2 linked regions of the Homo sapiens genome follow. The protein of the gene in region 1 purifies or fractionates together with the protein of each later gene. This does not show direct contact. Each region holds a gene or a part of one and is shown in the gene's direction. Other genes may lie near its edges. The genes, in order: KYAT1 and MBIP.

What was found.
Region 2: the proteins of KYAT1 (region 1) and MBIP purify together in Homo sapiens (affinity purification with mass spectrometry; 2 studies listed by BioGRID and IntAct, with this or other methods). This does not show direct contact.

The regions. Positions count from the first base shown.
Region 1 is NC_000009.12:128,871,951-128,875,772, reverse strand, and holds part of KYAT1 (kynurenine--oxoglutarate transaminase 1), read left to right. Parts: intron 1-3,822. UniProt on the Homo sapiens protein: Catalyzes the irreversible transamination of the L-tryptophan metabolite L-kynurenine to form kynurenic acid (KA), an intermediate in the tryptophan catabolic pathway which is also a broad spectrum antagonist of the three ionotropic excitatory amino acid receptors among others.
Region 2 is NC_000014.9:36,303,536-36,307,357, reverse strand, and holds part of MBIP (MAP3K12-binding inhibitory protein 1), read left to right. Parts: intron 1-3,822. UniProt on the Homo sapiens protein: Inhibits the MAP3K12 activity to induce the activation of the JNK/SAPK pathway. Component of the ATAC complex, a complex with histone acetyltransferase activity on histones H3 and H4.

The DNA.
Region 1 (3,822 bases):
CAGATCTTAGATGCCTGAGAGCTACCCCAGAAGGGTCCTCGGCACAGCTATGGTCCCCATGCCTAGTGGTGCTGGGCCTCCTCGGTGCTGCCAGATCACCTGAGCTGCCTCCATTGCAGCAGTTATCCCACACATTTTTTTTTTTTTTTGAAGCGGAGTCTTGCTCTGTCACCTGGACAGCTGTCAGGCTGGAGTGCAGTGGCTCAATCTTGGCTCACTTCAACCTCTGCCTCTCAGGTTCAAGTGATTCTCCTGCCTCAGCCTCCCGAGTAGCTGGGACTACAGGTGCCCACCACCACACCCGGCTAATTTTTGTATTTTTGTAGAGACGCGGTTTCACCATGTTGGCCAGGCTGGTCTCGAACTCCTGACCTCAAGTGATCTGTCTGCCTCGGCCTCCCAAAGTGCTGGGATTACAGGCGTGAGCCACCACGCCAGTGAGCCAAGGTCACACAGCTGCACTCCGGCCTGGGCGACACAGCAGGACTCCATCTCAAAAACAAAAACCAAAAAAAAAAAAAAAACAAAAAAAAACAAATTGAACATAAATGGAATAATGGAAGAAATAGCTAGCTGTGGGGATGGCAACTCTGCAGCTGTTCACAGTTTGGGAAACCTGAGATCTGCATCCAGAGAAACTTCTTGAAGGCAAACTTATCAACATAAATGAGGAAAGTGGTTCTAAAGAAAAAGATAATGACCCAGAGGAAATAATACCAGCAAAACTTCACATTAAAGGAACTCCCTGGGCTGAGCGCAGTGGCTCACGCCTGTAATCCCAGCACTTTGGGAGGCCGAGGTGGGCAGATCACTTGAGGTCAGGAGTTCGAGACCAGCCTGGCCAACATGGTGAAACCCCATCCCTACTAAAAATACAAAAATAAGTCGGGCATGGTGGTGCGTGCCTGTAATCCCAGCTACTCAGGAGGCTGAGGCAGGAGAATCGTTTGAACCTGGGAGGCAGAGATTGGAGTGAGCCGAGATCACGCCACTGCACTCCAGCCTGAGTGACAGAGCGAGACTCCGTCTCAAAAAAAAAAAAAAAAAAAAGGCAGGATTATCTCACCACAAAATGTACAGAACAGGAACTCCCAGAGATATTTCACAACATTGAAAACAAAGGATGACTAAGGATGACTCGTATTCATCAAGACATAGAAGATGTCAGGTGCAGTGGCTTACACCTGTAATCCCAGCACTTTGGGAGGCTAAGGCAGGATGATTGCTTGATGCCAGGAGTTCAACATCAGCCTAAGCAACATAGTAAAACCCCCATCTTTACAAAAAAAAAAAAATAGCTGAGCATGGTGGTTCGTGCTTATTGTCTCAGCAACTCAGGAGAATGAGGTGGGAGGATTTCCTGAGCCCGGTAGGTTGAGGCTGCAGTGAGCCGAGATCACACCACTGCACTCCAGCCTTGGCAACAAACATAGAAGAAATGCTCATTCTGTATCCTAAATTAAACCACTGGAAGACTGCAGCACTGTTCAGTTCAGAATATTCTTTTTTTTTTTTTGGAATGAAGTTTCATTTTTGTTGCCCAGGCTGGAGCGCAGTGGCGTGATCTCGGCTCACTGCAACCTCTGCCTCCTGGGTTCAAGCGATTCTCCCGTCTCAGCCTCCTGAGTAGCTGGGATCACAGGCGCCCGCCACCACGCCTGGCTAATTTTTGTGTATTTAATAGAGACGGGGTTTCACCATGTTGACCAGGCTGGTCTTGAACTTCTGACCTCAGGTGATCCACCCGCCTCGGCTTCCCAAAGTGCTGGGGTTACAGGTGTGAACCACCACGCCCGGCCTCAGAATATTCTTTTTTTTTTTTTTTTTGAGACGGAGATTTGCTCTGTCACCCGGGCTGGAGTGCAGTGGTGCAATCTCTGCTCACTGCAACCTCTGCCTCCCAGGTTGAAGCGATTCTCCTGCCTCAGCCTTCCGTGTAGCTGGGATTACAGGTGTGCATCACCATGCCCGGCTAATTTTTTGTATTTGTATTTAATTTTTTTTTTCTTTTTGAGATGGAGTCTCGCTCTGTGGAGTGCAGTGCCGCTCACTGCAACCTCTATCTCTCGGGTTCAAGCGATTCTCCTGCCTCAGCCTCCCAAGTAGCTGGGATGGGATTACAGGCACCTGCCACTACACCCAGCTAATTTTTTTTGTAATTTTAGTAGAGACGGGATTTCACCATGTTGGCCAGCCTGGTCTCAAACTCCTGACCTCAAATGATCTGCCTGCCTACCGGCCTCCCAAAGTGCTGGGATTACAGGAGTGAGCCATCGCGCCTGGCCCAAGCTATTTGCAATAAAATTTTTTCCTTGATAAACTTTTATAACGAAAGAAAACGTCTTAATTTTCAGTGTTGCTAATATTAAATTACAGTGTACTAAGTTCTTATTAGTTTTTTTTTTTTTTCATTTTCTATACTTTTTTATTTTTAAATGACAGAGTCTCACTTTGTTGCCCAGGCTAGTCTCCAATTCCCGGGCTCCAGTCATCCTCTTGCCTTGGCCTCCCAAAGTCCTGGGACTACAGGCATGAGCCACCACACCTGGGCTACATTTTTAACAGATGGTAAGAGAGTTTTAAAAGGTCACAGAACAATTGTCTTATTAATTATTATTATCCAATAATAATTTTCTCGATTATTAAGTTCTCTTTGCACAATTTAAGTTTACATGGTCTTTTTTTTTTTTTTTTTTTTAAATGGAGTCTCACTCTGTCACCCAGGCTGGAGTGCAGTAGTGCGATCCTGGCTCACTAGAATCTTTGCCTCCCGGGTTCAAGCAATTCTCCTGCCTCAGCCTCCGAAGTAGCTGCGATTACAGGCACATGCCACCATGCCCGGCTAATTTTTTTTGTATTTTCAGTAGGGACGGGGTTTCATCATGTTGACCAGGCTGGTTTCAAACTCCTGACCTCAAGTGATCTGCCTGCCTCGGCCTCCCAAAGTTCTAGGATTACAGGCCTGAGCCACCACGTCTGGCCAACATGGTCTTTTTTTTTCTTTTGAGACGGAGTCTCGCTCTGTCACCCAGGCTAGAGTGCAAACGGTGCGATCTTGGCTCACTGCAACCTCCGCCTCCCGAGTTCAAGCTGGTCTCCTGTCTCAGCCTCCCGAGTAGCCGGGATTACAGGTGAGTGCCACCATTCCTAGCTACTTTTTGTATTTTATTAGAGACGGGCTTTCACCATGTTAGCCAGGCTGGTCTCGAACTCCTGACCTCAGGTGATCCGCCCACCTCGGCCTCCCAAAGTGCTGGGATTACAGGCATGAGCCACTGCGCCTGGCCTCAACATGGTCTTTTTCTGTTTTGCTTTGTTTTGTTTTTTTTGAGTCGGAGTCTCGCTCTGTCACCCAGGCTGGAGTGCAGTGGCACAATCTTGGCTCACTGCAGTCTCCACCTCCCAGGTTCATGCCATTCTCCTGCCTCAGCCTCCCGAGTAGCTGGGACTACAGGTGCACGCCACCACGCCTGGCTAATTTTTTGTATTTTTAGTAGAGACAGGGTTTCACCGTGTTAGCCAGGATGGTCTCAATCTCCTGACCTCGTGATCCACCCACCTCAGCCTCCCAAAGTGCTGGGATTACAGGTGTGAGCCACCATGCCCAGCCAATTCAACATGGTCTTTTTTTTTTTTTTTTTTTTGAGACAGAGTTTCGCTCTTGTTGCCCAGGCTGCCGTGCAGTGGCACGATCTCAGCTCACTGCAACCTCCGCCTCCCAGTTCAAGTGATTCTCCTGCCCCAGCCTCCGGAGTAGCTGGGACTACAGGCGTGTGCCACTATGCCCAGCTAATTTTTGTATTTTTTTTAGTAGAGACAGGC
Region 2 (3,822 bases), on another chromosome or scaffold:
AAAACTCCTATTTCTGAAAAATTATGTGAGATAGCCCATTTTAGCATGGATCATATAAGTTAGTGGTGAAAATATATTTAAAATTTATTTTAGGTATGACAGCAATCTTCCAAAGTTATAGATTGAGTATAAGAGTGAGTTACAGAAAAGAAGTATTTCCAGAAGAAGAAGGCAGGTCACGTAACAAAAGGGAGCAGCAAGTCCTAAATGACAAAATTTCAGAGAAGAGTTTTAGTGATTTACTACTCTCAAATGTAAAATGAGGTTTATGAAAATACTAAGGGCTGAAGCAAAGATCAAATGAGATAATGCTGATCAAACACTTAGCATACTGCTTAGCACATGGTAAAAACCTCATTGGCATTTATTTAGTTTTATAACTACAAAGTAGCTGTATAAACGTGGAAAAGTCACTCTATTCCTCTGATCTTCAAGATGTCTAATTTTAGAAAATGTATTGGTTGTACTACATAATTACAAAGGTCTTTTCACTTTTAGGATTATTCTTTGAATGTCTTCCTAGGAGACTTCATAAAGATTTTTAATGACTTTTCCTACAGTAGTCTACCATAAGTTTTTCCCATTCTAACTGCCTTCATTAAAGAAGGCAATAACCTAGGAAAGTTATTTTTCTAGTTCAATTTCATACCTTGTTAATATAATTCTTATTAACGATAGAACCGATCTTACAATAGAGTATGGTAAAATCAGATGCCTCCAATGAGAACTTGCTGCAGCATCATTCCTCTCTTCTCTCTGATTCTGATTTATAAAAACTTAACAGAGGCCGGATGCAGTGGCTCACGCCTGTAATCCCAGCACTTTGGGAGGCCAAGGTGGGCGGATCACCAGAGGTCGGGAGTTCAAGACCAGCCTGACCAACATGGAGAAACCCCATCTCTACTAAAAATACAAAAAAATAAAAAATAAAAAAAATAAGCTGGGCATGGTGGCGCATGCCTATAATCCCAGCTACTTGGGAGGCTGAGGCAGGAGGATCGCTTGAACCCAGGAGGCTTAGGTTGCGATGAGCCAAGATCACGCCATTGCACTCCAGCCTGGGCAACAAGAGCAAAACTCGGTCTCAAAAACAAAAAAAACAAAACTTATAGATGTGTTTAACAAAAAAAAAAGCCCTCCACATCATAATCTTTTTGTTTTGTTTTGATCTGTTACAGATAGGATAGAGTGGGTAAAGAGGTAGAAGTAGCCAGATTGTTAGGACCTTAAGTGCTATGCTCAGAAGTTTAAAATCTATTTTCCAGGCAGGCAGCAGGGGGAATCTACTGAAAGCATTTGAGCAGAGAAGTGATTTGTGAACACGATATTTAGAAAGATTTATCTAATACAGTTGTGGGAGACAAACGAGAGAAACTAAGGATAAGGAGATAGTATTATGCTAGCTTAGATGTGAAGTTAGTTCCTAAAATAGGGACATGAGTGAGAATGGAAAAGATTAATGCAAGTAGGAAAAAAAATGGACAAATACTGATGATTGGATGTGGAAAGAGACAGAGAACAAGGATAGAGTCCAGTTTCTGGTTGGAAAAATGATACCATCATTGATAGAAATAAGAAAATCTAGAGAGAGAGATACTTTTGTGGGAAATGTGAATTTGAAGGCAGAGGAGGTTATGAAGGTAAAAACATCAGGTAAGCTTTTTGAGATACGGCACTTACACTTGGGACAATTGGGAGAGTCTGTGTAGTGTGAGAGTCCATTGATGGATAGGAACACAGATTGTCTGAGGCCTGAAGTCTGAAGCTTGGTGACTGCCTAATTTCAGGGGCAGGAAGCATTTGTAAATGTAAACAGAGGATTGGCATATATGTATTAAGCATTCAGAAAAGGATGGATGGTGGCAACCTGTGATAAAACAGGTGATTTTTAAAAGTATTTCCAAATATGTTAAAAAAAAAAACTATATATCTTTTAGAAGAACTGCAGTTCTTCTGGATTAGTGTTGTAAGTGACACATTAAATTAGTAGTGAGCTACAAGGAAGAACAAAACACTGGAAAGTTTAAACATTCAGACTCATTCTGTCCTTTAGGCCTGTGAACATACATGACACAAGCCCTATGGGAAAGAAGATTTCATACTCATCACCCTTCTATAATAGGATGAATGAGCCATCTTTAGGAACCTCACTTGGAATACAGTCAGCTCTAAGAGTGTCCTTGCAAACAGGAGAAGTTGAGCACATACCTTACAGAGGACATAGTACATTATTCATCACCCTCACCATCATGCTGGGAGTACATGCATGGTAATTGCATAATTTTACATATTTATCCCTCAAAAGTATACAGAAGAAACTACATATGTAGCACAGTCCTATAGCTTCTAAAGATAGGAAAGGAAAGTTGAGCCCATTCAGTTTATTAAGGATTGAACTTTTGTTGGAACTCCTGAACTCTGAAAAGATTTTCATTGAAATGTGTTTATTCAGATTCACATGTAGATGAATTCTAAACATGGGGGAGCTTCTTACAATTGGATAGAGATTGATTATCATGGGTAACATTGAAGCGTAGCATAGAAAAACAAATATTTATGGGGAAAAAAGATGTCATTTGTATTTGTTTTATAAAATGTAATCAGATTATGTAAAGTTCTCATTTTACGACCAGACATAAAACTCCAAAATAAGTTATATGTGTATAAAACAGGATTTATGACAAAAGTTAATAATACTTGTTGGACATTTTGATATAAGAGTTCTAAAGATCTTTATTCTTCACATTAGCCATGGAAAGCTTTAAATGTAATGTTTTCAAAAGTTTAAGGGCATGGCCTTAACAGTCCATTTAAAAGAACGATCTTAGAGTATTTCCAAAGACTTACTGATTTTAAATTATGATACTTGAAAACAGTAAGTACCAACATGCTTTTACAAGTATATTGTTTAGTTTATAGCATTTATCACTCATATGTTTATACATGTTTTTCACTTTATATTTTGAAACTCTCAAGGGCAGGAACTATGTCTTGTTCATCTTTGAGACACAGAATGTAGTCAATATCGAGTAGATGTGCAAATGAATGGATAGGACTTGGCTGATAGCTCATTATTGGACTTTGAAGGTGTGTTAACTTTGTTCAAAGCACTGACTGAGAGTAATTTTTAGTCTGTAACAGTAACTCCTGGTTCTTAAGGGAAGTATCGGGGGAGGGGAATGCTGAAAATCAGGTCAACATCATGTACACAGGCCATGTGCGTGTGAACGTGTGGTGGGTCTGAAGCATGAGTGAACAACTGGATTCAGCTAGAAAATTAGATTGTAAACATATTTCAGAGGGCCTTGAAGGTCACACTAACCAGTTTGCACTTCTAGTATCATTGGAGCACAATTAAGTTTTAGAGAAAGAGAGAAACTTGTAATTTAGGTCCCTGTCTGGTGGCATTATGAAGTCTGAGTTGGAGAGAAATTGGAGTCAAGGAAACTAGTTTAGGAAACATGTCATTATCCAAGCCAGAGAGAAATGAAGGTCTGAATCAGGGCTCTGGGACTAGAAGGGAAGAAAAACATTTTAGATACTGCACGCATAGAATCAGTTGCCTTTTACAACTGAAAGAAAGCAAGCCAGTCATGGAAGAGGCCTCCTTACCCTTGAGTTTCCTTAGAGCACTGGTTCCCTGGATTCATATGTGTGTGTGCATGTGCGTGAACGTGTGTATGACAGTCATGCTCTGCATAAGGATGTTTCAGTCAACAGTCAACTGCATATATTACAGTGATCCCATAAAATTATAGTATGGTATTTTTACTGTATCTTTTCTATGTTGAGACGTGTTTAGATACACATATACCATTGTGT